7 linked regions of the Homo sapiens genome follow. The protein of the gene in region 6 purifies or fractionates together with the protein of the main gene of each other region. This does not show direct contact. Each region holds a gene or a part of one and is shown on either strand. Other genes may lie near its edges. The genes, in order: LYPLA1, LETM1, SAR1B, DCUN1D5, APOO, GSX1 and NDUFAF2.

What was found.
Region 1: the proteins of GSX1 (region 6) and LYPLA1 purify together in Homo sapiens (affinity purification with mass spectrometry; one large-scale study listed by BioGRID and IntAct). This does not show direct contact.
Region 2: the proteins of GSX1 (region 6) and LETM1 purify together in Homo sapiens (affinity purification with mass spectrometry; one large-scale study listed by BioGRID and IntAct). This does not show direct contact.
Region 3: the proteins of GSX1 (region 6) and SAR1B purify together in Homo sapiens (affinity purification with mass spectrometry; one large-scale study listed by BioGRID and IntAct). This does not show direct contact.
Region 4: the proteins of GSX1 (region 6) and DCUN1D5 purify together in Homo sapiens (affinity purification with mass spectrometry; one large-scale study listed by BioGRID and IntAct). This does not show direct contact.
Region 5: the proteins of GSX1 (region 6) and APOO purify together in Homo sapiens (affinity purification with mass spectrometry; one large-scale study listed by BioGRID and IntAct). This does not show direct contact.
Region 7: the proteins of GSX1 (region 6) and NDUFAF2 purify together in Homo sapiens (affinity purification with mass spectrometry; one large-scale study listed by BioGRID and IntAct). This does not show direct contact.

The regions. Positions count from the first base shown.
Region 1 is NC_000008.11:54,095,190-54,099,176, forward strand, and holds part of LYPLA1 (acyl-protein thioesterase 1), read right to left. Parts: intron 1-3,987. UniProt on the Homo sapiens protein: Acts as an acyl-protein thioesterase. Hydrolyzes fatty acids from S-acylated cysteine residues in proteins such as trimeric G alpha proteins or HRAS.
Region 2 is NC_000004.12:1,814,657-1,818,643, forward strand, and holds part of LETM1 (mitochondrial proton/calcium exchanger protein precursor), read right to left. Parts: intron 2,259-3,987; coding exon 2,071-2,258; intron 1,147-2,070; coding exon 1,008-1,146; intron 1-1,007. UniProt on the Homo sapiens protein: Plays an important role in maintenance of mitochondrial morphology and in mediating either calcium or potassium/proton antiport. Mediates proton-dependent calcium efflux from mitochondrion.
Region 3 is NC_000005.10:134,619,178-134,623,164, forward strand, and holds part of SAR1B (small COPII coat GTPase SAR1B), read right to left. Parts: intron 1,876-3,987; coding exon 1,756-1,875; intron 1-1,755. UniProt on the Homo sapiens protein: Small GTPase that cycles between an active GTP-bound and an inactive GDP-bound state and mainly functions in vesicle-mediated endoplasmic reticulum (ER) to Golgi transport.
Region 4 is NC_000011.10:103,081,831-103,085,817, forward strand, and holds part of DCUN1D5 (DCN1-like protein 5), read right to left. Parts: intron 1,497-3,987; coding exon 1,426-1,496; intron 1,010-1,425; coding exon 918-1,009; intron 1-917. UniProt on the Homo sapiens protein: Contributes to the neddylation of all cullins by transferring NEDD8 from N-terminally acetylated NEDD8-conjugating E2s enzyme to different cullin C-terminal domain-RBX complexes which is necessary for the activation of cullin-RING E3 ubiquitin ligases (CRLs).
Region 5 is NC_000023.11:23,900,952-23,904,938, forward strand, and holds part of APOO (MICOS complex subunit MIC26 precursor), read right to left. Parts: intron 3,392-3,987; exon of another isoform or gene 2,845-3,391; coding exon of another isoform or gene 2,824-2,844; intron 1-2,823. UniProt on the Homo sapiens protein: Component of the MICOS complex, a large protein complex of the mitochondrial inner membrane that plays crucial roles in the maintenance of crista junctions, inner membrane architecture, and formation of contact sites to the outer membrane.
Region 6 is NC_000013.11:27,790,850-27,795,505, reverse strand, and holds GSX1 (GS homeobox 1), read right to left. Parts: upstream 3,024-4,656; 5' UTR 2,816-3,023; coding exon 2,404-2,815; intron 1,941-2,403; coding exon 1,558-1,940; 3' UTR 738-1,557; downstream 1-737. UniProt on the Homo sapiens protein: Probable transcription factor that binds to the DNA sequence 5'-GC[TA][AC]ATTA[GA]-3'. Activates the transcription of the GHRH gene. Plays an important role in pituitary development.
Region 7 is NC_000005.10:60,947,817-60,951,803, forward strand, and holds part of NDUFAF2 (NADH dehydrogenase [ubiquinone] 1 alpha subcomplex assembly factor 2), read left to right. Parts: intron 1-3,987. UniProt on the Homo sapiens protein: Acts as a molecular chaperone for mitochondrial complex I assembly. Complex I functions in the transfer of electrons from NADH to the respiratory chain. The immediate electron acceptor for the enzyme is believed to be ubiquinone.

The sequences.
Region 1 (3,987 bases), on a different chromosome or scaffold from region 6:
TTTCGTCATGTTGGCCAGGCTGGTACTGAACTACTGACCTCAGATGATCCTCCTGCCTCAGCCTCCCAAAGTGCTGGAATTACAGGCATGAGCCACTGCACCCGGCCAGAACAAAGGAAATTTAATTAAAAGACCATATTTTAACTTTAAATATTTAAATATCATAAGATATTCGGCAACTACCACAACAATAGATTCTGGCAATAATCATTAATGGGTGCTAAATCCATGGGTGAACATATGGTGGGGATCAGGAATATGTTATAATATCAAGGTATCTCCCCACAAAATATTTTTTAATATTTTAATTACATATTCAATATTTTAAATATTTCATATGTTATATTTATTATTTTAATGTGGAGAAACCTGGCAGACACCATCTTAACCAAGTGATAAAACACATCAGTAACAACAAAATCATCATGAGGTCTGCCTAATATGATGCACTGTTATGGACACAGCAATACCCCTATAGTGTTACTGTCAAAAAGGTATAAATCACAAAACATCAGATAAACCCAAACTGAGGGACATTCTACAAAGTAACTGGCTTACACTTTTTTTTTTTTTTTTTGGTAGACACAGGGTCTGGCTGTTGCCCAGGCTGGTCTCAAACAGCTGGGCTCAAGCGATTCTCATGCTCAGCTTCCCAAAGCACTGGTATTACCATACCCGGCCTGTATTCTTGACAAAGTGTCAAGGTCATGAAAGACAAGGACTGTTTCAGAATAAAGAAAACTAAAGAGAAATGATAAGTAGAGGCAATATGTGATCCTAGACTGATAAAGGACATTATTGGCTCAAATCAATGAAATGTGAATGGAGCTGGTGGATTAGACCGTAGTATACCATCAGTGTTAACTTCTTAATGATGGTTATACTGGAGTGTCCTGGTACTTAAAAATGTACACTGAAGAATTAAGCTGTAATGAGGCAACACGCCTGCAACTTATTCTTTAATAGTTCAGAAATATTAACAATTGGGTAATTTGGGTGAAAGGTATAAGGAGCTATAAATGTTATTTCTGCAACTTTTATGTAAATTTCAAGTTATTTAAAATGAAAAGTTAAAAAGTTTAAAACATAACAGAATAGAACATAACCTATTAAATAAATCTGAGTCCAGGCATGACACAGTGGTTCATGCCTGTAATTCCAGGGAGGGACTGGGAGGCCGAAGTGGGCAAATCACTTGAGGTCAGGAGTTCGAGACCAGCTTGGCCAACATGGCAAAACCCCGTCTCTACTAAAACTACAAAAATCTGACTGGACACTATGGCTCACGCCTGTAATCCCAGCACTTTGGGAGGCTGAGGAGGGCAGATTACGAGGTCAGGAGTTTGAGATCAGCCTGACCAACATGGTGAAACCCCCCCGTCTCTACTAAAAATACAAAAAAAATTAGCCAGGCGTGGTGGCACGTGCCTGTAATCCCAGCTACTCATGAGGCTGAGGCAGGAGACTCACTTGAACTCAGGAGGCAGAGGTTGCAGTGAGCCAAGATCACGCCACTACACTCCAGCCTGGACGACAGGGCGAGACAAGGTCTCAAAAAAAAAAAAAAAAATTAGCCGGGTGTGGCGGCACGCACCTATAGTCCCAGCTACTTGGGAGGCTGAGGCAGCAGAACTGCTTGAACCTGGGAGGTGGAGGTTCAGTGAGCCGAGATTGCACCACTGCACTCCAGCCTGGCTGGGTGACAGAGCGAGATTCTGTCTCAAAAAATAAACAAATAAATAAATAAATAGAAAATAAATCTGAGTCCATACTAACTAAATGGGGAGTAGCAGATTAATAAACAAAATGGAATGACAAAAAAAAAGGAATGACAGAATTGGAAAATCACACTGTAGAAATGATTGACTCAAGCAATTATCAATGGATGATAAAAATATTGGGTGAAAGCTTGATGAACAACTTGCATAGTCACAAAGTATCCCCCCGCAACTTGCTTTTTAATTACAAAAGGAAAGTAACTGCAGTCGAGACCTGGAAGATACCACCTTAATCAAAAGATCGAAGTTACAACAATAAAAGGACTCAGCATCATTAGTCTACTGATGCGCGCAATGAATAGGACATATTGTTTACATGGTATTTATACCAGAAATGCATAAACTGAATCTAATCATGAGTAAATACACAAACCCAAATTAAAGGACTAGCCTGTTCTCTGCAGAAGTGTCAATGTCGTGAAAGACAAAAGAAAATCTAGGGAATTGTTCCAGATTAAAAGAGACAAAAGAGACTAAAGAGACGTGATAACTAAATATAATGTATGACTAGGGAGGAGATAGCTATAAAGGATATTAATGGAACAATCTGGCAAAGGTTGAATGCATAATATATTAGATAATACTAAATGTTAAATTTAATGGGATAACTTTTCTGTGATTATATAATGTTTAAAATACCCTAGTCCTTCTCACCCACAGTTTTGTTTTCCATGGTTTCAGCTGCCCACAGTCAACTGTGGTTCGAAAATATTACATGGAAAATTCCAGAAATAAACAGTGGGGGATGCTCTAAAACCCCTAGTGGATGCCTGAATCCATGGATAACACCAAACCCTATATATACTATGTTTTTTCCTATACATAATGCTTGTGATAAAGTTTATTGTGTAAATTAGACATAGGAAGAGATTAACAATAATAAAACAATTATAACAATATGACAACATCACTTCTCTTGCACTTTGGGGCCATCATTAAGCAATGTAAGGCTTATTTGGATAAAAGCACTACAGGCTGGGCGAGGTGGCTCATGCCTGTATTCCCAGCACTTTGGGAGGCCAAGGCGGGCAGATCGCTTGAGGTCAAGAGTTCCAGACTGGCCTGGCCAACATGATGAAACCCCGTCTCTACTAAAAATACAAAAATTAGCCGGGTGTGGTGGTGCACGCCTGTAGTCCCAGCTACTCAGGAGGCTGAGGCAGGAGAGTTGCTTGAACCTGGAGAGTGGAGGTTGCAGTGAGCCATGATTGTGTCACTGCATTCCAGCCTGGGTGACAGAGCAAGACTCTGTCTCAAAAAAAAAAGCAAAACAATACCAAAACAGTTGACCTGATAACCCAGATGGCTACCAAGTGACTAACAGATGGTGAATGGATATAGCATGGATACGCTAGGTAAAGGAATGATTCGTGTCCTGGGTGAGACGGAATGAGATTTCATCACAATACTCAGAATGGTGTACAATTCAGGCCAGGCATGGTGGCTCATGCCTGTAATCCCAGCACTGCGGGAGGCCGAGGTGGGTGGATCACTAGAGGTCAGGAGTTCAAGACCACCCTGGCCAACATGGCAAAACCCCATCTCTACTAAAAATACAAAAAAATTAGCTGGACGTGGTAGCACGCGCCTGTAATCTCAGCTACGCCGGAGGCCGAGGCACAAGAATCACTTGAACCCGAGTGGCAGAGGTTGAAGGGAGCCGAGATCGTGCCACTGCACTCCAGCCTGGGTGACAGAGTGAGACTCCATCTCAAAAAATAATAATAAAATAAATAAAAAAGAATGGTGTACAATTTTAAACTTATAAAGTATTTCTGGAATTTTTCATTTAGTATTTTCAAACCACAGTTAACCACGGGTAACTGAAACCATGGGAAGCAAAACTGCAGGTAAGGGGAGACTACAATATCTTAAGTATTAAATTGCCACTTGTCAGGCTGACAGGTTCGAAGTTTCATCATGCACTCATGGAACCAATCTAGAGTCAGCCTTTCCTTAGCATTATCCCACCAAATAATTTCAGAACTGGAGACCTTTGTTTTTTCTTTTATCACAACAGGTTAAAAAGAAGGATACTTTTTTAATATAAACTTAACTTTTGGTCAAGATGTAATGGATGTTCTTGGTATTTTTGATCCTAATAGTCTTCACCATTTTTACTTTTAGCTTCAGTCTGTGGAATCTGCCTAGACTGAAGTTTTTTTTTTTTTGCTTGAACTAATCATTCAGGCATAGAAGTGCTCATTAT
Region 2 (3,987 bases), on a different chromosome or scaffold from region 6:
CCCCAGCTGGGGTGGCAGCAGCATGCACGCAATCACTGCCTGCGGGCCCCAGGGTCCTCAGAGCACCAATTCCCCCAAGGGGTGCCACAGACCCTGGGGAAGGGGCTCAGAGTGGGAGGACAAAGGAGCCAGGGGGCTGCCTTGACAGGTGGCAGACAGCACAATGGGGCTGCCAGGGTCAAGTTCCTGCTCTGGCCAGGAACCTGGGCCATGGCTTCCCAGGGCAGAGTGGGGTGACATGCAGGGACCTTGTCCCCACTCTGCCACCCAGACTAGCAGGGAAGGGAAGGGCAGCTGTGCAGTAGATACATGATCCTTGCTTCCAAACTGAACTGCAAGAAACCAGCCAACACTTCTGTTAGACGTCTGGAAAATCACTAACCTGATGCATGCACCGGGAGCCACGAGGCAGCTTCCCCTCAGAGATGTCAGTGATTGGGAAAATTGGTGTGCGCACTCAGGCTAGAGCCCTGCCTTCCCTCCAGAGACTGGATCCTGGGCCAGGGTCTCCGGGGCTACCCTGGAACCTGAGTGGCTGCACTTGGGAGCTCAGCCCAGCAGTCACCTCTCAGCCTTGGGGCGGTGCCCAAGCTGCCCCGCGGCTCCCCTGTGTAGTTGCCTCTCAGCTTTGGGGGCCCCCGGCAGGTGTGAAGTGCCCCCAGGCTCCCTGTGCAGTCGCCCCTCAGCGTCGGGGGCCCCTGAGAGGTGTTTGCTGCACCCCCCCGGCTCCCCAGTGCCACCAGCTGGGGGCGGGGTCCAGGGACATGCGTAGCCACTAGGTGCGTTTTCTCTCTCAACACTTGAGTTGTAACTTCAATAATTTCTCACTTCTGATGTTTCAAATGAGAGCAGCGGCTTAAAGGAGCAGTCGCAGTGACAGACCCAAACCCCTGACAGGAGGGGGTAGCTGCCCAGGAGGGTGCCGGACATGCAATGAACAGTCCCCCTGCCCCACCCCACTCCAGAGCAGGTGGCGGATGGCCTGCGTGGTCCCCAGCGAGGCCCACCTTGACGAGGTCGTCGATGTTGACCTTGCCATCCTTGTTTTCATCCAGTGCTGCGGCCAGGCTGGTGAGCTTGCTTTCGGGAATGTGCTTGACTTGCTTCATGGCGTTGATGAGCTCAGCGACACTGATGACGTTCTCCCTGTGGAAGCACAGCCTGCATGTGGCCACGGGCAGGCGTCCTGCCACACAGGGCCTCACTGCCCACACCTGTGGCTGCAAGTGGTCAGCACTGACACAGGCGGCTCCGCGTGAGCCAGGCAACCTCCAGCACGGACCCCCAAGGTATGATCCCATCCTGCATACAATGCCAAGAGCTCCCAGGGCCAGCGTGGACACAAACACAGAAACACCACCAGGTCCAGGGTTTCCACGGGCATGTCTGCCCCTCAGTGGCTGCCCCTCTGGGGCCATGGCTGCTGGGCTGTTGTCCTCAGGCCTGTGGCCACTTGGCAATACGTTCACGATCATGGGGGCTGTGGTGCCCTGGGCAGATGAGGGCCTCCAAGAGCAGGGACGAGAGCATGAGCAGGGTGCCACGTGCAGCCCACCTACAACACTGTGGGTGTGGAGGTGGAGATTTGGAACCTGCAGGGCACCAGCAGTCACCCAACAGCTGTTTCATTCGCCCAGAAGGGACTCACAAAACGGCAGCTCCCTCAGCCACTGCTGCGCAGGAATCTGGGACATGTCGGGCACAGAGAAGGCCGACTGCCCGAGCTGGTGTCATTACTGAGCGTGGGTGGGGTCAGGAAGAGGGAGAGGCAAGAGAGAGCCTGGTAATTAGAGGAAACAGAAGCCAACAGAGGTGGAGGTTGGAGCGGGAGGAGAGGGGGCTGTGGGAAGAGGAAGAGGGGCCAGGAAGGGACGAACTGCTCTCGGAGAGGCAGAGACTGACATGCCAGAGGGTTCCTGGCTGGGACTGCTGGTCAAAGGTGGAGAGGCAGCCAGGCAGAGGCTACAATGTGCCCTTTGGAGCCAGAAGGGCCCAGCTCGGATCCAGCAAAGGGACCAGCCTCCCTATGTGAGTCTCCGATCCCTCTCCCGCGCCCACCACCCCACTCACCCCGTGGGCATGCCGTTGGCCGGGGCCAGCTTGCCAGCCTGCTGGTCCATCTCCAGCTGCGAGATCAAGCCATCGATCTGCCCGATCATTTGCTGCACCCTTTTTGTCAATCTCTTGCTGGCTTTAGATTCTTCCACGTACTTTTCTTCACCAGTCTTTGAAAGTTCCTTCTTGATCTCCTGCAAGTCCTAATAAAATTATTTTGGTTGTAAAAAGTTTGTCTTAAAAGAAAAAGGGGGTCAGGTGTAGTGGCTCACGCCTGTAATCCCAGTACTTTGCAAGGCCAAGGCGGGCGGATCACCTGAGGTTAGGAGTTCGAGACCAGCCTGGCCAATGTGGTGAAACCCCGCCTCTACTAAAAATACAAAAATTAGCTGGGCATGATGGCAGGCACCTGTAATCCAGTTACTTGGGAGGCTGAGGCAGGAGAATCGCTTGAACCCAGGAGGCAGAGGCTGCAGTGAGCCAAGACCATGCCAACGCACTCCAGCCTGGGCAACAGAGCGAGACTCTGTCTCCAAAAAAAAAAAAAAAAAAAAAAAGAATCTGGTTGGGCACAGTGACTCATGCCTGTAATCCCAGAACTTTGGGAGGCCAAGGCAGGAGGATCACTTGAGGACAGGAGTTCGAAACCAGACCAGGCAACATAGCAAGACTTTATCTCTACCAAAATTCAAACAAAAAATTAGCCAGGCGTGGTGGTGCACACCTGTAGTGCCAGCTACCCAGGAGTCTGAGACAGGAGGATGGCTTGAGCCCAGGAGGTGGAGGCTGCAGTGAGCCAAGATCACATCACTGCACTTCAGCCTGAGTGACAGAGCGAGACCCTATCTCAAACAACAACAAAAAAAGGTAATAAATTAACTTGTAAAGGTAATTAAACCCATTAATTCAAACCAGAGAGTTATAAAATTGTATTTCTATCATACAAATTTCTTATTTTTGTACACTGCCTTGCAAGCAAAAGACATAGAATCTATTCTGAATCTCAATTTCCTTCACATTTGTTAAAGAAAAATTAAGTGAACTAATTAATCAAGGAAATTAAGTGTCTTTGTTTTTTGAGATAGGGTCTTGCTCTGTCACCCAGACTGGAGTAAAGTGGCATGATCTCAGCTCACTGCAGCCTCCAACTCCCAGCCTCCCACTCCCAAGCAATCCTCCTGCCTCAGTCTCTGGAGTAGCTGGGAGTACAGGCACACAACATCATGCCTGGCTAATTTTTGTATTTTTTGCAGAAATGGTGTTTCACCATGTTGCCCAGGCCGGTCTCAAACTCCTGAGCTCAAGTGATCCTCCTGCCTTGACCTCCCAAAGTGCTGGGATTACAGGCCTGAGCCACCAGTGCCCAGCCTTAAGTGTCTTTTTAAATTCCAAGTTGTTTTTTTCCCACGAGTAAACACCATGAGGAAGAATGGGGAAGGCGAGGGGAGGGGAGGGAAGGAACAGGCTGAGCTGGTGATAAGCACCTCACATCCAGTGGAGAACCCACATGGCATGAGGGCTGTCATAAATCTAGAAATGGCCAATTATTTTTGCCAATTGAAAAATCAGTTATCATTCCCAACAGAGCTATGAAAACAGTTTTTAAAAAATCGTATTAGGGGCCGGGCACAGTGGCTCATGTTTGTAATCCCAGCACTTTGGGAGGCTGAGGCGGGTGGATCATGAGGTCAGGAGTTCGAGACCAGCCTGGTCAACATGGTGAAACCCTGTCTCTACTAAAAATACAAAAAATTAGCCAGGCATGGTGGCACATGCCTGTAGTCCCAGCTACTCAGGAGGCTGAGGCAGAAGAATCATTTGAACCCAGGAGGCGGAAGTTGCAGTGAGTCGAGATCACGCCACTGCACTCCAGCCTGGGCGACAGAGCTAGACTTCGTCTCAAAAAAAGAAAAAAAGAAAGAAAGAAAGAAA
Region 3 (3,987 bases), on a different chromosome or scaffold from region 6:
AACATTAGCTGGGTGTGGTAGCACATGCCTGTAATCTGAGCTACTTGGGAGGCTGAGGCAGGAGAATTGCTTGAACTCAGAAGGCAGAGGTTGCAGTGAGCCGAGATCGTGCCATTGCTCTCCAGCGTGGGCAACAGAGCAAGACTCCATCTCAAAAAAAAAAAAACTTTCAATTTTTTTGGTATTTTTTGTTTCTTTAGAGACAGGGTCTCACTCTGTTGCCCAGGTTAGGAGTGCAGTGGTGCAATCATAGCTCAGTGAAGCCTTGAACACCTAGGGTCAAGTGATCCTCCTGCCTCAGCCTCCCAAGTACCTAGGACTACAGGTGTATGCCACCATGCCAGACTAATTTTTTGTTTTTGTTTTTGTAGAGATGGAGTCTCAGTATGTTGCCCAGGCTGGTCTTAAACTCCTGGGCTCAAGTGATTCTCCTGCCTCAGCCTCCCAAAGTGCTGGGATTACAGACATGAGCCACCACACCCACCCTTGTTTTAAAACTTCCTGTGTGTCAATATATGCCTTGTTTTCTTTAGATTAATTCTGTGGTGTACATTAGATATTGTTGAGGTTATTAAGACTAGAAAAATAACTGGTTAACAAATTGAGTTACCAGCCATGTATAAAATTGTAATGTATCTACTGAATTAGTGCTTAAAATAGTACATGGTGCAATGGCTCCTATCTTTAATCCCAACACTTTGGGAGGCAGAGGCAGGAGGATCACTTGCACCTGGGAGTTTAAATGGTGCGCTATGATCATACCACGGCACTCCAACCTACATGACAGAGCAAGACCCTGTCTCTACACAAATAAAATAAAGTAATATGGCTTTAAAATCTGAAAGAAGCCTGGGCGCGGTGGCTCACACCTGTAATCCCAGCACTTTGGGAGGCCGAGGAAGGCGGATCACAAGGTCAGGAGATCAAGACCATCCTGGCTAACACGGAGAAACCCCGTCTCTACCGAAAATACAAAAAATTAGCCGGGCGTGGTGGTGGGTGCCTGTAGTCCCAGCTACTCGGGAGGCTGAGGCAGGAGAATGGCGTGAACCCGGGAGGTGGAGCTTACAGTGAGCGGAGGTCGTGCCACTGCACTCCAGCCTGGGCGACAGAGTGAGACTCCACCTCAAAAAAAAAAAAATCTGAAAGAAAAAATTCAGGTTATGTAAACAAGGCGATGGTGGACTATTTACCAATCATGTCACAATCCCTCAGACAAAAACTTTTTAATTCCTCAAGCTAGAGAAGGGAGTACTAGCTGATAAAAAGGTATGAGTACTAATTCAAGATCTAAATATTCTCCCTGGGAGCGAGGTCACCTATAATTTATTATTTTAGGAACAGGTCAAATCACCTGATCATAATTTATCTACCAGAAAATGCCCCCCAAACAAAAAACTTGGCCAGGTGCAGTGGCTCACGCCTGTAATCCCAATACTTTCGGAGGCTGAGAGAGGCTGATCACTTGAGCTCAGGAGTTCAAGACCACCCTGGGAAACATATCGAAACCTGGTCTCTGAAAAAATATAAAAATTAACTGGGCATGGTGGCACATGCCTGTGGTCCCAGCTACTTGGGAGACGGGAGGATGGCTTAAGCCCAGGAGACAGAGGTTGCAGTGAACTGTGATCATACCACTGCATTGCAGCCTGGGCAACAGAGAAAGACCCTGTCTGAAACAAAACACTTTTGGTTAGTGCATATGACTCAGCATCATTTGATCAAGTATCACATTGTATGTAGGAATATACTTACTGGGATGTAATGTTGGGACATGTTGTCCAAGTCTGTCATCTTTTAGCATGTGTAGCAATGTTGTTTTTCCTGCATTATCCAATCCAAGAAATACCAGTTTACCAGTTTTCTTATATAATCCTGCAAAGCAAGAGCTATGATTGGTCAAAGTGATATCTGATACTAATTATCCAAATGAATTTAAATTTGGCCCAATTAAGCTTGAAGTTCTAAACCTATTTTCAGTTTTAAAAAAGCTATTTTAAATCTATTCATGGCCGGGCACGGTGGCTCACACCTGTAGTCCCAGCACTTTGGGAGGCCGAGGTGGGCGGATCACCTGAGGTAAGGAGTTTGACACCAGCCTGGCCAACACGGTGAAACCCCGTCTCTACTGAAAATACAAAAATTAGCCAGGTGTGGTGGCGCATGCCTGTAATCCCAGCTACTTGGGAAGCTGAGGCAGGAGAATCACTGGAACCCAGGAAGCAGAAGTTGCGGTGGTGAGCTGAGATCATGCCATTGTACTCCAGCCTGGGCGACAAAGTGAGACTCTGTCTCAAAAAATAAATAAATAAATAAATAAATAAATAAATAAATAAATCTATTCATGATTTGGGACTTCAGATAATTATAAAACCAAACTTCAACCCAGTCAATAGAATATGTGTTTTGCCTTAACATATCTACAATGCCAAAATGCTGATTAATTTTAGAAGTATCAATCAGGTATTGATTGATAGATAAATTGATAAATAGAAAAAAGGCAGCATTGACCAATTTATAATAGACTGGAATTGAACTGCTAAATTTCATATTGAACTTAATTAATTGATTTATTTAGAGACAGTGTCTTACTCTGTTGCCCAGGCTGGAGTGCTGTGGCATGATTACAGCTTGCTGCAGCCTCAACTTCCTGGGCTCAAGTGATCCTCCCACCTCAGCCTCCTGAGTAGCTGAGACTACTGGTGTGCACCACCACGCCTGACTAATTTTTGTATTTTTTGGTAGAGATGGGGTTTCACCATGTTGGCCAGGCTGGCCTCAAGTGATCTGCCCACCTTGCCCTCCCAAGGTGCTGGGATTATCAGCGTGAGCCACACGCCCAGCCAAACTTTATTTTTTACATGTTTAATGGTCTAACCTCCACAAAATTACATGTGAGCCACCACACCTGACTGAAATAAACAAACTTTTAAAGACATTAGGCAATTATAGTTTCAGGCCATCCGTTTTTGAATAGATTCATACTAAAATAACACTTACTCCTTTGTCCATGCTTAAGTCTAAGAAGTAAATTGTTTGATGTCCTAATCTTTTAGTTTTGGGGGCAGAACTATATATATATTTTATCATTAAGGAATCTACTTCTATGACTGTCACTACTATGAGTGTCACGAAAAAGTAATTTGCCCAAGATTACATAATTTAAAAGTAATTGAACATATTTGTTCAATCGAGTAATTGAACATATTTGTATAATTACAAAGCCCATATTCTTTTTTTTTTTTTTTTTTGAGACGGAGTCTCGCTCTGTCACCCAGGATGGAGTGCAATGGCATGATCTCGGCTCACTACAACCTCCGCCTCCTGGGTTCAAGCGATTCTCCTGCCTCAGCCTCCCAAGTAGCTGGGACTACAGGCGCGTGCCACCATGCCTGTCTAATTTTTTGTATTTTTAGTAGAGACGGGGTTTCACCGTGTTAGCCAGGATGGTCTTGATCTCCTGACCTCATGATCTGCCTGCCTCGGCCTCCAAAAGTGCTGGGATTACAGGCGTGAGCCACCGCGCCCGGCCTTAACTATTCTTAACTATTGCTTCATATATAAAGAGGCTCAACACAAATAAGCACTATTATATAAATAAAATTAAAGGAGATAACTATAGAGAACAAAGGACCAATATTACCTAGAAACTGTAGCAAGGAGGCCGGGCACAGTGGCTCACGCCTGTAATCCTAGCACTTTGGGAGTCCAAGGCAGGTGGAACATTTGAGGTCAGGAGTTCGAGACCAGATTGGCCAACACGGTGAAACCCCATCTCTACTAAAAATACAAAAAATTAGCCAGGCATGATAGTATATGCCTGTAATCCCAGATACTCGGGAGGCTGAGGCAGGAGAATTGCTTGAACCAGGAGGCGAAGGTTGCAGTGAGCTGAGATCGCACCACTGCGCTCCAACCTGGGCAACAGAGTGAGACTCTGTCTCAAAAAAAAAAAAAAAGAAAAAGAAAAAACTGTAGCAAGGCTGG
Region 4 (3,987 bases), on a different chromosome or scaffold from region 6:
TAGCACTGAAAATTCAAATTTAAAAATTTTAGTGCCTCATAAACAAATACTTTAAAAAAAAATTTAAGGCCAGGCAAAAAATAAAGAATAATTACATGTGTTAATGAAAGCATAATCACAACAGGAAACCAAACAGCTAATTAAGCCCCAGTTTTTGCCTCAAAAATATTATAAATTAATGCTTTCTCTATTTTAGAATGTTGATAACTAATACCCTGCAGAAACACTAGAAACATGATACTATACAATTAACACAAAATCACTAATTGATTCTGAAATTAAGCACACTTCATTCAGGAAAGCCAAAATCAAATTATTTTTATAAGATGCAATTCTATAACTTATGAAAATGTTCAAAGACAGGATCCTAAACTGAAAGTGTAGGACTATAAAATGGGTAAAGATTGCACGGGAGCAGTTACAACATTTCTACTTTTGTCCTTTATGAAATTCACTTGGCAATAAAGAAATCATAAAAGGGTTATGTAACTCTATCTTCAAATTTTTAAAGTCAAATATTAAAGTGAAGAAGGGAGAGGAGGCCCTAGAGCTTAGGGCTGCCCAACGAACATACTCCTTCGATAGTAGAATTCTGTATTGAGAGAGGAAAATCCTTATACTCAAACAACCTGTAAATAAATAGGTCTTTGATCATAGACTTTTAAGTCACTCACCAAGAGAATCAAGGAATTTTAATAGGACTGTACTAAGGTTCTTTCTTAGAGAATATAAAACATGGGGTACCTATATATTTGCCCAAGACCACAATATAATTTTTTCAATCCCCAAACTAATTGTTATAGATCAAACAGATTTGATTTAAGGTGAAACCTTACTCCTGAAAATTATGAAGCACAAAATATCAATTAAGATCTTCAAATAGGCCATCAAATTTGTTTTTTAAAAAAATTTCTTACTGTAATGAAGTCATTCCCTTTAACCATTCTTCCTTGGTAAAAAATCCCATGCTTTCAGCCTCCAATTTCCACGCTAAAACTAACATAATAATCTGGAAAGAACAGAACATAAAGGATAGGGGAAAAGTCAGCATAGAGATAATCATGTCTATATTTATCATGGAGAGCATTTTTACACAACTACTTCCATCCTTCAACTATTAAAGAGTACAACCTCTGGAATTATTAACTATATACAAAGAAATTGAGATGTGCCAATTTCTTAAAAGTAAAAAGTTCTAACAGTTTCTGAAGGTAGAATCTCTTATTCTATTACATATAACATTTGTATCAAGAAAGAATACATTTGCCCAACTTAAACTGATTAAAAATACCTTAAATGCAAATTTACAATATTAAACATGAAGAAATAAAATCTTCATACAAGATTAAAGTGTCTCGATTTTTAGTAATTTACGAATATGCTATACCCCACTTATATGCCATTCTACTTAGAAATAAAACATACATTTTCAGGTTCAACACCAATGTCTTCACAAAATTTTTCCATTCCTTCTGGCCCTACAACTTCATCAGGACCTTCAAAGACAAAAATAATTAACATATTTTGTTATAATATCAACATAAAACATAAATCGTCATGCTAAAGGTACCCATGAACACACCATAATATTTTGCAAATAATTAAATTTGAATTTTGGCATAGCTTTGATAAGTATAAATATTTGCTACAGGATTTAAAATTTAAAATTTGTGAAGTATTCTTTGAACACCAGATTACAATATGAAATTAAGAAAATTTAAAAAGCAGCAAAGAAATACTCCATTAGTATCAATCACAAGTTAGTACAAAAACTCAAACCAATCCATTAAAAAAAAAATTCACTGAGAGCCTACTCTGAATAAAATTTTTGACAATGCATGAATATGAAAAAACATAAGGCAGCTGGAGCTTCTTAATCTACTGGAATATCAGAACCAACACAAAGTTCAATACAGTAATCAGAAGGGGAATATATTTACCTATAAAACAGGCCATTTATTACCCTTTTGAAATACACTCAAATATAATTTAATTATTGAAAAAGACAAAGGTATTTTGAAAATAATGACTTATGGAAATTACTACATTCCATTTCCAGAAAGAGCTATTTTCCTTATCATCTTGGTTCTAAAACAGACAGCAAGCATTGATGTCACCTTAATGTAGAAACAGAAGTTTAATCTTTCAATTAGTTAGTGTCTATCATTCATCCAAAAATTAATTACTGGCATTTAACTTGTTCCTTATTTTACACCCTTAGCAACATTAATAAATCAATACATCAATTATCATTTTTTCAAAATGTTATCAGATTCCCAAAATATAGTAATTACATCATCACTAGGTCTCTTTTGTGACTGGATAAGAATAAAACAAATTTTGTAATAATATGAGAAATGTGTTTACCACTATGGGATTTTGAAAATATAATCTTGAGATATTATTCTTAAGAGTCAAGAGAAGCCTCTATTTTCCTTTTTCAAGGATGAAAATCCTCCAGCTTTATAAACCATAGACTAGACCAAGGCTGCTCAGGTAAATTTGACAGCACCATATTTAGGTTACTAGCACAACATAAAGTCAATACATTCTTGCTGCCTGAGATCCAAGCTGCTAAGATGACATTAATACTGGTCTGAAGCCAAAACCCTTTTTAATTTTTTTGTGTAACATGTTAAGTGTTATTAGGTTTAAATAAGTACTAACAATGCACTCGTGTTAAAAGGTGAAGGGGGTGATTAATTATAGGGCACTTTCTCTTCCTTTACATATTTGGAGAATTGTTTAAATGAGAATGTGTTAATTTTATAACTTAAAAGGCATACATATACAATAAAGGTGTTAAAATGCATAAATGAGTATGTATTCTTATATATGATTGAAAGAAAACAAAAATCAGATTTGAAAATTTAAGAGGCCCAGGCGCGGTGGCTCATGCCTGTAATCTTGGCACTTTGGGAGGCCGAGGTGGGATTATCACTTGAGCCCAAGAGTTCCAGACAAACCTGCACAACACAGGGAGACCCCATCTCTAGGGAAAAAAAAAATAGCCTTGTGTGGTGGTGCCAGTCTGTGGTCCCAGCTACTCAGGAGACTGAGGTGGGAGCATTGCTTGAGCCCAGGAGTTTGAGGCTGCAATGAGCCATGATCACGCCATTGTACTCCAGCCTGGGAGAGAGCAAGGCCCTGTCTCAAAAAAAAATAAAAAATAAAAAATTAAGGGAAAAGACAAACGGTTTTTTTAAAAGCCACGATGTAAATATATTGTAAATTTTTCTAAAGCATCAAGAAAACATACTTGCTCTCAAAGTTGCCATTAGTGATTCAAAGAGAAAGCTTTAGAGGATGTCTAGAAACATCAGCATAAGCTAGGAGCAGTGGCTCACGCCTGTAATCTCAGCACTTTGGGAGGCCGAGGCAGATGGATTACGAGGTCAGGATTTCAAGACCAGCCTGGCCAAGATGGTGAAACCCTGTCTCTACTAAAACTACAAAAATTAGCCAGACGTGGTGGCAGGTGCCTGTAATCCCAGCTACGCAGGAGGCTGAGGCAGGAGAATCACTTAACCTAGGTGGCAGAGGTTGCAGTGAGCCGAGATTGCGCCACTGCACTCCAGCGTAGGTGACAGAGCGAGACTCTGTCTCAAAAAATATAAAAAATAAAAAAGAAATATCAGTATAGCCCCCCTAGAAACTGGAGGATTACTTGGTGATTACTAATTAAAATTTGGTTAGAAGCAAGTCAAATGAGATTACATAGAGATATAATACCTTATAACTTAGATAAGGTCTGTAAATGTTAACTGACTTTGCCAAAGTGATGTAAATAGTAACAGATCTAAGTCTAAAGCGAGGTCTGTAACTAATGTGCTTTCCCCGGACTGCAAAATGTTAATCCTTCCAATACCATTGCTTCCAATCTTTCTAATAAAACTACTCTCTGGGTAAAACCTCTGGAGCTAAATTTAATTAACTCTTTTGGACAACTAGGTTTCCACTCAATTGAAGAAGCTATAGAAATGATTT
Region 5 (3,987 bases), on a different chromosome or scaffold from region 6:
CTTCATTATCTTTCCAAATATGTGGCTTTTAAAATAATGCTCAAGTATAAAAGTTACATTACTCTTCCAATTTACAGATGATTTTCCTTTTCCATTTAGCATTGTAATTCTCCGCGCAGTTCTAGTAACATACTAGTAACATGGTAAGAAAATTAATTTCAGGAAGACAGGCAATGTAAGTATTACACTAAGCCACAAAGAATGTGTGAGGTAATAACACCTCATAGTCATGGACATGTTCACTCAGGCTCCTTGGTGTGGTGAGCTCTGAGTACAGGTCATGTTATTTGCCCTTGAGGAAGGAAGTGACACAGACCAGTTTTCACTAGGCCACCTTCTTGCCCTGGAGGCTTCAGTTAGCAGCTGATGATTTCCCAATTTCCAGCCCACGTCTGTGGCAGGAAAAGTCCATACCCTGGGGTTCTACATCAACTGATTTCCCCCTTCCAATGCCCAGATATTTCAGCAAGCCCAACCTGTTCAAAACCAAACCATCACCTCCCCCTCAAACCAAATTCAACCTTCTTCCACTTTCCCACCTCAATGAATAGTTCCCACCTCAATGAATAGATCCCACAGTCAAAAGTCAAAAGCCTGGGCAGAAACCTTAATTTATCCTTCTCCCTCATCTACCACATCCAACTGACTACCAAGTTTTGAAATAAAAAATACTTTTGGAGAGCCCCAAGACCGTGCACCACCGTAACACAGGTAGTTACAAGATGCCATCTTACAAGATGCCAACTAAAAGTAACAGCTCACATTTCTTCAGCCCTTACTTTGGGCCAAGCACTGTTCTAAGCTTTGCGTAGGAATGAATTTAATCCACACAATAATTTGAGGTTGGTAAGCATCTCATCCTTGTTTTACAAATGAGGAAGCAGCTACAGAAAACTTTAGTATCTCTCACAAGGAACACAGTGAAGCCCAAGGTCTTAACACTGTTCTGAACACTCTCACACTTCTGTGTCCTTGCATGTGCTTTTCTTCTCTGTTTGGAAGGCCCTTTCAACCTTGTCTGCCTAGCTCCAAAGATCAGCATAGGCATGTTCTTCTCTATAAAGCCTTCTGATGCCCCCTGCTGTTGCTCTTCCCTCTAAGTCAGTAGATCTCAAGGCTGGCTGCTTGCTCCAAAAACTAGATGCCTAATCCTACCCCTAGAGATTCTTGATGTCATTGGTATAGGTTCTAGACTGGGCATCGGGACTTTTAAAAGCTCCCCAGGTGGCTCTAACATGCAGTCAAGGTTGAGACCCACTGCATCGTTAACGGACCTTTAATGTCTGTGCTGGTAAGTGCATTGTGAGCTTCTGAAATGAAAGTTTCATAATCACCTTGGGGGGCTTTTTCAAAACTAGCAGTTCCTGGACGCCAACTAAAAAGTCAGTCAGAACCATGCGCAGGGGCTTGGAAACTGTCTCCTTGAATAATTCTGATTTGTGGCCAGATTTGGGACCTCTCTCCTAGATAAGAACTGGGTCTTTTCACTTGTACCCACCAGGGTCCAGCATGATGCCCAGCCCATAGTTGGACTAGGATAAAATCTGTGTAATGAAGGAAATCTAATAACGTGAATCTGGGTATATGTATCCAATATTCAAACTTCCTGCAGCAGCACAAGGAAAAGCTGCTTCCTACAATGGAATGCAAATACTGGGCAGCTTTTCAAATGTGTTTTTTAATCCACCAATGCCCCCTAGTGACCTGAAGATGAATAACTATATCAAAACATCGCAGTATATATTTTAAGTACAATGTGTACTTAATATGCACATAACTAGTCAGACACACTGCACTTTTACTACCATTGTACTTTTACTACCAACACCTATACTATTAACTCCTTTGCCCTCCAGTTCTAGTTAACCCAAGCTGTTAACTCCCAAACCCCGATCAATCCTACCGTTTACTCCATCCCCACTCTGCACAAACATACAGGAGTGCTCTCAGCAGAGCCCTCAAAGGGTCTGGCCTATCTTTTTGTTCCTTGGTCAGTGCCTCTCCCAAATCCCACCATGTTCATAAGACCATCCATCTCGAAAACACAAGAACCATTCATCTACCGATTGGCTTCAATTCTTGCTAGTCAAAGGGGACCAACGAAAACTATAGAACTAGTTAAAAAATGGAGAATCTGGCCGGGTGCGGCGGCTCACGTCTGTAATCCCAGCACTTTGGGAGGCTGAGGCGGGTGGATCACAAGGTCAGGAGTTTGAGACCAGCCTGGCCAGCATGGTGAAGCCCCGTCTCTACTAAAGATACAAAAAATTAGCTGGGCATGGTGGCGCGCACCTGTCAATCCCAGCTACTCAGGAGGCTGAGGCAGAGGAATTGCTTGAGCCCGGGAGGCGGAGGTTGCAGTGAGCAGAAACTGCGCCACTGTACTCAAGCCTGCGTGATAGAGCGAGACTCCATCTAGAAAAAAAAAAAAAAATGGAGCATTTGAGGCCGCATCCCAGACCTACTGAATTGGAATCCATTTTAACAAGAGTCACATGCCCATTAAAGTTTGACAAGCACTGGTTCTCAACTACTAGACCTAACATCACCATTTTATGACAAATATTTTCTGACACTCTTCTGGTATCCTGAAATAAAATTCATCACTAAGTTACATGCATAAGTCCAAAAAGTAAATCAGTATACTCTGATGGTAGCATAAAGGTGAATAAAAAGGAAAGATTTATGTGAATTATATTTCAGTATGTAAATGTTCAACACAACTAAAGACATAAAGAACAACCCCATTTTCAGTTATAATTTTTGCAAAGTTAAAAACGAAAAAAGAAAAAAAGAACAACCCCACAAGTTTCCAAAACATACCATTCTGTTGAGTCGTACCATTCTATGGAGAACCACTGGTCTACAATCTCTCGCACCTTTCTTTTCCTTCCATCTCTCGGGTGGGAATATCTCTCCCTTGCACAGCTGAGGTATTCTCTCTAGAATCTTGACTGAACATATCCTTCTAGTTACCAAATTCTCTCTCCTTCCCTTGATAGTCAAGCTTATCAACCATCATAGTGTCCACTTACTTGGCCCTCAGTCACCAACCCAGGTTAATCTACCCTTCACTTCCATCAGTAAACCTAAAGTATAAGGATCATGAAAGCTTTCCAAAGTGCCCAAATCAGTGAACACGACTCATGATATGTAACTAACTCATATCTCATCTAGCTTATATCTCCGTCATGGACATTGTTGGTTGCATATCCAGTCTCTATTCTCCCTCTTCCTTCCTAAAAGAACTCCATTGTGTTCATGAATGCATTCCTCTCCCCTGTGATTAAGTGACGCCACCCTGGGTTGATCCTGTTTAGTCTAAGCCAATCAGATCATGGCATTCCTCTGACAACTGTTACAGGGTCAGACAACTGACCTAAGTTGGTCCAATCAGACTGAAGGACCAAGTGTGGGAGTTTTTTCTCTCTCCTCCTCCTCTTGCTCTAGAGAATGAGAAAGTGTGTATGTTACTAGTAGTCATCTTGCAACCCTAAAGGAAACCAACCTGACTGTGGAAACCCAAGAAGAGATGGGTCCTTGATGACACTGGTTTTTTTTTTTTTTTTTTTTTTGGGACGGAGTCTCGCTGTCTCCCAGGCTGGAGTTCAGTGGTGCGATCTCAGCTCACTGCAACCTCCGCCTCCCGGGTTCTTGCCATTCTCCTGCCTCAGCCTCCCGAGTAGCTGAGACTACAGGCACCCGCCAACACACCCGGCTAATTTTTTGTATTTTTAGTAGAGACAGGGTTTCACCATGTTAGCCAGGATGGTCTCGATCTCCTGACCTCGTGATCCGCCCGCCTCGGCCTCCCGAAGTGCTGGGATTACAGGCGTGAGCCACCGTGCCTGGCCTGACACTGTTGACCAACTGAATCAGAGCCTGGAATCCATTCTTCCTCTGGACTTTGTGAGAGAATTTTCCTTACTATTTAAGCAGTTGGGTTTTCCCAGCTGAAAGCATCCTAACATAGCCATTTCTCCTTGA
Region 6 (4,656 bases):
TTTTAACGAGAATTGGTGAGAACATGAGGTCCCAGAGCCACTGGCTCCAGCTATGCAGAGTCCCTCTCGGGGACTCCCTGGGGCAGGATCACTTCGGATTCTCGGATTCCTTGCCCGGAATGTTCCGCGACCAGGGACTCGGCTAAGGGAATTTGCCTTAAAACAAAGAGAGGAGGGCCCTCTGAGAGAAGTCTGCACCATCCCGCAGAATGGAAATTTGTCCCTAACGAATCGTTATCAATCCAAGCGCAGTGAAGGACGGATTTCTTGTGCTTATGGAGGGAGTGGTTTCTGCCCTCCCGGCTGTTGGCCAGGACAGCGAAATGGTGAGGGATGGAGGTGGGGCTGGATCCCAGGTGAGAAGGAGGCGCTGCAGGGGTTGGGACCCATGGTGCAGTCCAAGGAGAGCGCTCTCCTTCCCTTCCGGCTTAGCTCTCTGAGCTCCGCGACGCTTGTGCGCCACGCCGGAGCGGGACAATCGTTAGCGCGCACCTGGCTGGCATGCAAGGCGGGCTCTCAGCGGAGCTGAGGGTTCCGAGAGGCACTGGCTGAGCTGTAAGGCGAGGAGCCGGCTCGGACCCTGCAACTGGATCCCCAACCCTTCCCAGAAGGGAGGCCCAATCCGGGTTGGCGCCTGTCTACTCCAGAGCGAAGGCCTCTGGGCTCAGAGCCACGGGCATTTCTAAGAAAAAAAAAAGTTTATTTAAAATTTTGTACATAAATAAATAAATAAATATCTTCTGGCATTGCAGAGGCCGTACAATTACACAGCTAGGCTGGGGCGGGCCAGAGTCTGGAGGGGGAAGAGTGGGGTCGCCAGCGGCGCAGAGCGGGGTCCTATGTTTAGAGGAAGGAAGAGCGTGTTGGAAACAGAGCAAATCTGTTTCCCCAATATGGATACTACGGGCGAAATTTATCATCTGTGAGAGGAGCCGTGGGGACTGAGGACAGCAAGGCCAGATCAAGGGACAAATGGACTGACTGAAGGAGGAGGCTCCCTGAGGAGGGGAAGGGAAAAGGAGAAGGAAAAAAAAAGTGGGGGTTCATAAATGTGTGTGTTGGCGGGCGGGGGCCGAGTGAATAAATGATCACAGGAAAGAGGTGGGGAGGGACAAAAAGACATTTTAAAAAGAGAAGCGAACGAGCATCCAAGGCCGCCGACCTTGACCGAGAGCGGAGGAGAGTAGAGTAAGCGAGGAAGCCCAAGCCAGCCCAGAGAGGGCGGGCTAGGAGGCGCCGGCTGCCAGCAAGGCGCTGCGCCAAGCAGGCTTGCGGGCGGGGGCCGCGGTGCTGCACTGCCCAGGAGGACTCGAGCGCTTACAGTGTTCACAGCTTGGAGTTGGCTTTGGACACGAGCGAGCCCTGGGGCGGGGACGCCATGGTCCAGTCTCTGCCAAGCTCTCAGCCCTGCCCAGGCCCGGGACCTCTGCAAAGCAGTGCCAAATCCATGCCAGGCAGTGGTTTGGCTGCGGGTGCCTGGGAATCAGCGCTGAGTCCCAGGACTAGTCTCCGAGGCGCAGGGAGGTCTTGGGGTGGGCGACCTAGGGAGACACGCGCCTAGGGAGTGACCGTAAGATCCCGGTCGTCCTTCCCTGAGGAGGACGGAGACATGGGCAATTCGTCGTCATCCTCGGAGCACTTGGCTGAGGAGAGCGATGCGCACTTGCAGCCTTGCGGTGCGCTCCCGCCACCACCGGCACCCCCGCCGCCGCCGCCACGATGGTTGCTGCCCTTGCCCTCCTTCTTGTGCTTCACTCGGCGGTTCTGAAACCAGATCTTCACCTGCTTCTCGGACAGATTCAGGTAGGTCGCGATCTCGATGCGACGTAGGCGGGACAGGTACATATTAGAAGCGAACTCGCGCTCCAGCTCTAGCAGCTGCGTGCTGGTGAAAGCCGTGCGCATCCTCTTGCTGCTGGGCAGCTGGTTAGAGCTGCTGTCTGGAGGTGGCAGAGCAGAGAAGGAAGCGATCAGACCTCTGTGCTGTGGACCCAATCCCTTGGTAGGCGGTCGCCAGAATCCTACGACTTTGACCTCTTACCCATCTCTTCGCCCCAACACAATCCACAGCAGAGCTACAGTGAGCGCTCCTTGTCCAGCTCCGAGATCCTGATTCTCCCGGAGTCATGCAGCCCTGGAACCCCTTCCCCTTCATGGAGAGCCTTGGATCCCAGCCCTCACTTACCCCGGCCCACACTCCAGGACCTGGACGTCTGCCCTCATCCGCCTCCTGGCGTTGTGTCCCGGCCCTCTATCCTCACTCCACCCCAAGCGCCCCCCTTAGTCCCCGACATGACCCTCACCGCCCCCAGAAAGCCCAGGGTCCCTCTTCCTCCATCTCTGGCTCTCCATCCTGCTTCGGATCACCTCTGCCCGGTCCCTCTGCGCGGCGGCCCCGCTTACCCACAGAGATGCAGTGGAACTGCCTGGGGTCAGGCAGCGGGTAGGAGGTCTGGTAGAGCGCGGCGGCAGCAGCAGCGGCGGCCGGGCCGTGAGCGACCCCGGGCGACACAGCAGAGTGCTGGCGGCCCAGGGGCGCGTGGCAGTACTGCGAGCCGAAGGGTGGGAAGGAAGCCTTGAGTAGAGGCAGCGCGGGCGGCCCGGGGGGCCCATGCAGCTGCGAGGCGGTGACGCAGAGCGGGCACACGCACAGCAGCCCAGCCTTGCGCGCGTGGCAGGCGCCAGGCGAGAGACCGTGCAGCGCGTGCGGCGGGGGCACAGCGTAGGGGAAGAGCGGCGGCGGGCTGCCCTCGGGCGCCTTCTTCTCGCCCGCCTCGCGCAGCACTAGCGAGTCCACCAGGAAGGAGCGCGGCATGGCCCCGGCGCGCGGTCGCCCCGCAGCCAGCCCGCCCTCTGCGCCCACCGCACCTTTCGGCTCTCCACGCGCTTTCCCTGGCCGCGGTATCCCGCAGCTGCCTCTGCCCAGGAGGCTGAACGCGCGGCTGAGACCTAGGCTGAAACAGTAGCCTCTGCTGCCGTGGGCACCGCCCAAAGAGCGCGGGGTGCTGGCCAGCGCTAGTGGTGCTGAAAGGCGCCGGCGGCGCGGCTTAAATAGGACTATTGCCATGTGATGGACTACGCCAGGAGCGGCCGGGGCCTCTCAATAGGGTTTTTGTGCCTTTTCTCTTGGCATTCACTCTGCACGCTTCCTCATTATTTCACTTGTTAACTAAATGAACTGCATAATGTACTCTATTCTTGTCAACCCCACCCACGCCGTAACAGGCGCCCTCGCCCCCTCCTCTCCCTTTTGCGGGTTTATTTTCTCATTCTCCCGCGATTTAATATTCTTTCCTTTCTCTTTATTTCTTACTCCCCTTTGGCTTTGCATTGGCCATCAGCCCGTTCACCTTACTGATTTTGCACCCCCGCGGCCTCTCTTCTACAGATCCCCATGGGCGCACACCCTCATATCCTCTGTCCACTTGGTCCTGGTCCCCTTCTTTCTATTATCGCCCTTACACCCCAAAAGTATGCTGTCTCCAGTCAGCCCTGTCAGCTCAGTGCCGTGCACCCCCGAACCTCCCTCCAGCCGGTCTCAGATTTTCCACCTGTGGAATCGCTTCTCTCTCTGCGTCGGAAGAAGGAGGACCGGGTTCCCGCGTGAAGGAGGCGTCTGTGGGGAGGGAGGAGAAGGGCTCATTATTCCTTATCCAGCCCTAGACCCATCGCTGTCCCTCGGTTTTCTCTAAGTTTCTCAAATAGTCTTAATTTTGGTGCTGCCTACGACGCCCAGTCTTTGTTCGGTAGATGCTGGCCAACCAGCCCTTTCCTTCAAATGACAGGGCCGTGGATGTAAAAGAGGAAAAACAGTCTCTGAGCGTTACGAACAGAGACAGGGAATGGGGAATGAAAGCCGAGATGGCGCAGATCTAGATCTCGCACCCCAGCACATGTGGCGAGTGCGGACTGTCTGCCCGCGCATCTTGCCCACACCCTGTCTACTGGAGCACACTTCCAGCAGTGCGCTGGGAAACCGCTGCCATCTCTTAGTTTGGAACGGCGCGAAGGGCGGTTGTATTCCTGGCATCGGCTGCCTTTGCCCACCCTGACCCGCCTCCGCTCTCCCCAAGACCCGGCTTCTTCTTCCTGCCGCGTCACTCTTCTTTCTGGTCACACAATGGTTAAACAACTTCAAACGCTCAGAGCTGTGTACACAGCTCCAGCTTTTTAAATCGTTCTCGGGCTCAAAGCTGTTTCGCCCAGGAGCTTTTTCCATACAATGGGAAATCAGCATAAACATTTCTAATTTACAGCCCGGGACTTTTCACAGGAGACGTTTACTTTCGATTTTATTGGAACCAAATCGCTGCAGTCACCTGCTCTGAGCCCTGAATGGAATTGTGAGAAATGGAGGGGGAAGCTTAGGGGTCTGGGGAAGCAGTGCGCAGGAATAAGATTGCCCAAACCCGAAGCATCTGCATGGGCTTTTATCCTTGGCAACATCTTTGCAATAACAACAGCAACAGATTATAACTGATTAAAAAGCAAAGATAATTTGTTTTGCGAGATAATAACTGCTTCTGTAAAAGGGAATAGGACAATGGGAGAAGTAACCTGCATGGAGGGCATGGCATCTAGCAGGAGTAAGGGTTCAATGTTTTCTTGGTTGCTTGGCATGGAGTGGGGGGCAAGGCTGCCCTCTGAGACAGAGTC
Region 7 (3,987 bases), on a different chromosome or scaffold from region 6:
ACCAGTTTTTGTATCATTCATTTATATAGAGATACAATACCATTAAAGTTTCAAATTAACAGTCATGTCTATTCTACAATAACATGAATATTTTATTTTTACATATTCTCACTAATTTGTATATTTTCTTACATAATTGTAATTGCATTTTGAGAGTTTTATTGAAGTATAATTGACAAAAAAAATTGCCCATGCTTAAAATGTATAATTTGGTAAGTTTTGACATATGTATATATCTGTGAAACCATCAACACAGTCAAGAAAATTAACATATTCAATATCCACAACAATTTGTTGTGCTCCTTTCTAGTCTTGCCTTATGCTTCTGCTTCCATGGATAGGCACTCATCTGATTTCTGACACTATACATTAGTTTGTATTTTTTATAATTTTTATTTAGTTATTTTTATTTGTTTATTTTGAGATGGAGTCTCGCCCTGTCGCCCAGGCTGGAGTGCAGTGGCGCTATCTCGGCTTACTGCAACCTCTGCCTCCCAGGTTCAAGTGATTCTCCTGCGTCAGCCTCCCAAGTAACTGAGATGTGTGCCACCCTGCCCAGTTAACTTTTTGTATCTTTAGTAGAGACGGGGTTTCACCATGTTGGTTAGGCTGGTCTTGAACTCCTGGCTTTGTGATCTGCCTGCCTCGGCCTCCCAAAGTGCTGGGATTACAGATGTGAGACAGTGCGCCTGGCTAGAATTTTATTTAAGTGGAAGCATACAGCACATATTCTGCTTTTTTTTTTTTTTGTTTTTTAGGTTCTTCACTCAGCATAATTATTTTGAGATTCATCCATGTTTTTGTGTTTATCAGTAGTTTATTTCTTTTTAATGCTGAGTAATATTCCATTGTATGTATATACCATAATTTGTTTATCCATTCACCTGTTCATAGATATTTGGGTTGTTTCTAGTTAGGGGTTATTACAAATAAATTATGAACATTCATGTGTAAGTCTTTGTATGGACTTATGTTTTTATTTCTCTTGATGTAATATTTAGAAATGGAATGGCTGAGTCAACTTGTTAGGTGTATGTTTAACTTCTTAAGAAACTGCCTAAGTGGTGGTACCGTTTTACCTTCCCACCAGGAGTGTATGAGATTTCCAGTTGTCCTATATCCTTATCAACACTTGGTATGGTCAGTCTTTTTAATTTTAGCTCTTCTAGTAGGTGTGTTGTGGTATCTCATTTTTTTTCTTTAGTTTTCTGTTTGCTATTAGTTGGTTTTTTTAGATTCTATTTTTAAAATACAGTAAAATTAACTTTTAAAATTGGTGTATAGTTCTATAAATTTGAACACATGTGATTCATGTAACCAACACCAAAATCAGGATACAGAACAGTTCCGTCACCCTGAATAACTCCCTCATGCTACCTTTTTGTAGTTACAATCTCTCCTCATCCCTAACCTCAGCAACCACTGATTTGTTCTCTGCCATTATACTTTTTTCCATTTGAGACTGTCCCACATGTATACTTATACCATATGTAACCTTTTGAACCTGGCTTCTTCTATTCAGCATAATGCCTTTGAGATTCATTACGTATATCAGTAGTTTGCTCCTTTTTACTGCTGATTAGTATTCCATGTTAATGGATGTACCAGTTTGTTCATTTACTCATTAAAGGGCATTTGAGTTTAGTTACTTGCAGTTTTTGGTGATTATGAATACAGCTGCAAGAAACATTCACATATGGGTTTCGTGTGAACATAAGTTTTCATTTTCCATGAGTACATACCTAAGAGTGTGAGTGCTTGGCCATAGCAGCTCCAGCTTACTCTGTAAAACGGAAATAACAGTACCTACTTAGCCTCACAAAGTATTTTTGCTACTCAAGAGAGACAAATTGGATAACGTAGCATTTAAGAGAATGGGATTTAATGTCGAAATCAGTTTGACTTAATTCACAGAGACCTTTTACTTGGTCATTTTTAAAAATTTATCACTGATTTGTAGTTTTCAGCATAGAGATCATGATATGTTTTGTTAAATTTATTATAAAGTATATTATATTGTATTGTTATTATAAATGATGCTTTAAAAAACGTAATTTCTAATTCTTTGTTACTATTATATTGAAGTACAATAGATTTTTCCATGTTGAGCATGTATCTTGCAACCTGTTTTACTCACCTACTAGTTCTTGAATGAAGCCTTTTGCAGATCCTTTGGACATTCTCTGTAGGTAATTATATCAACTGTGGATAGAGACAGTTTTGTTTTTATCCTTTCTAACTTATTTGCATTCTATTTCCTTCTCTTGCCTGGCTGCACTAGATGAGCCTCCAGTATAATGTTGAATAAGAGTGGTGAGCATAGGTATCTTTTTCTTGTTCCATATCTTAGAAGAAAAACATTTAATCTTTCATTTTTTTTTTCCCCAAAGGTGGAATTTCGCTCTCGTTGCCCAGGCTGGAGTGCAATAGCGTGATCTTGGCTCATTGCAACCTCCACCTCCTGGTTTCAAGCGATTTTTCTGCCTCAGCCTCCTGAGTATCTGGGATTACAGGCATGTGCCACTATGCCTGGCTAATTTTTTATTTTTAGGAGAGATGGGGTTCGCCATGTTGGACAGGCTGGTCTCGAACTCCTGACCTCAGATGATCTGCCCACCTTGGCCTCCTAAAGTGCTGGGATTACAGGCATGAGCCACCACGCCTGGCCACTACTCTTTCATTGTTAAGTGTGGTGTTAGCTATAATTTTTTAGATACCTTTTATTAAATTAACAAAGTTCCCTGTCTGTACCTCGTTTGCTGAGCGCTTTCTCTTATGAATCGATGTTGAATTTTGTCAATTTTGTCACATGCTTGCTTGCTGGGTTTTTTTTTTTTTTTTGGTTCTGTTGGAATGATCATGTGGTGAATTTATACTGATTGACTTTTAAAAATTAATAGACTTTATTTTTTAGAGCAATTTTAGGTTTACAGAAAAATTGAATGGAAACTACTCAGATATTCCTGCTCCCCCAATGCAGTTTCTCCCATTGTTAATATCTTGCATTAATGTGTCCTCACTTCCTCCCTTCCTGCTACCAAACCCCTAGCAACCACTGATCTTTTTACTGTCTCTGTAGTTTTGCCTTTTCCAGAATGTCATGTAGTTGCTGTCATATAGTATGTGATCTTTTCAGACTGGCTTCTTTCACTTAGTAATATGCACTTAAGTTTCCTCCATGTTTTTTTGTGGCATAATAGCTCCTTTCTTTTTATTTATTTATTTATTTTTGAGACAGAGTCTCACTCTGTCGCCCAGGCTGGAGTGCAGTAGTGCGATATTGGCTCGGTGCAACCTCTGCCTCTCAGGTTCAAGTGATTCTCCTGCCTCAGCCTCTCGAGTAGCTGGGATTACAGGTGCCCACCACCATGCCCAGCTAATTTTTGTAATTTTAGTAAGAGACAGGGTTTCGCCATATTGGCCAGGATGGTTTTGAACTCCTTACCTCAGATGATCTGCCTGCCTCAGCGTCCCAAAGTGCTGGGATTACAGGAGTAAACCAGATGCCTGGCCATCTACTTTCTTTTTATTGCTAAATAATATTCTGTTGTATGGTTAGAACCACTGTTTATTCGTTTGCATATTGAAGGACATCTTGGTTGCTTCCAAGTTTTGGCGATTATGAATAAAGCTGCTATAAATATTCCTGTGCAGTTTTTTGAGTGGACATAAGCTTTTAACTCATTTGGCATTGATTGATTGTTGAATGTCTTGAATATTGCATTTGTCAGGTAAACTCCACTTGGTCATGATGCATTATCCTTTTTATATATTATTGGATTGATGTGCTTTCATTTTATTGAAGAATTTTGTTTTCTGTTCTTCAGGATCTTAATTTCTTCCTTTTAATGTGTTTTCTAGGTTTGTTTTTAGGTTAATGCTGGCCTTATAAAGTGAGTTAAATTTTGTTTCCTTCTTTTGAATTTTCTGGAAGCGTTTGTGAAGAATTTGTATTACTTATTTCTTACATGTTGGATATAAATTGCC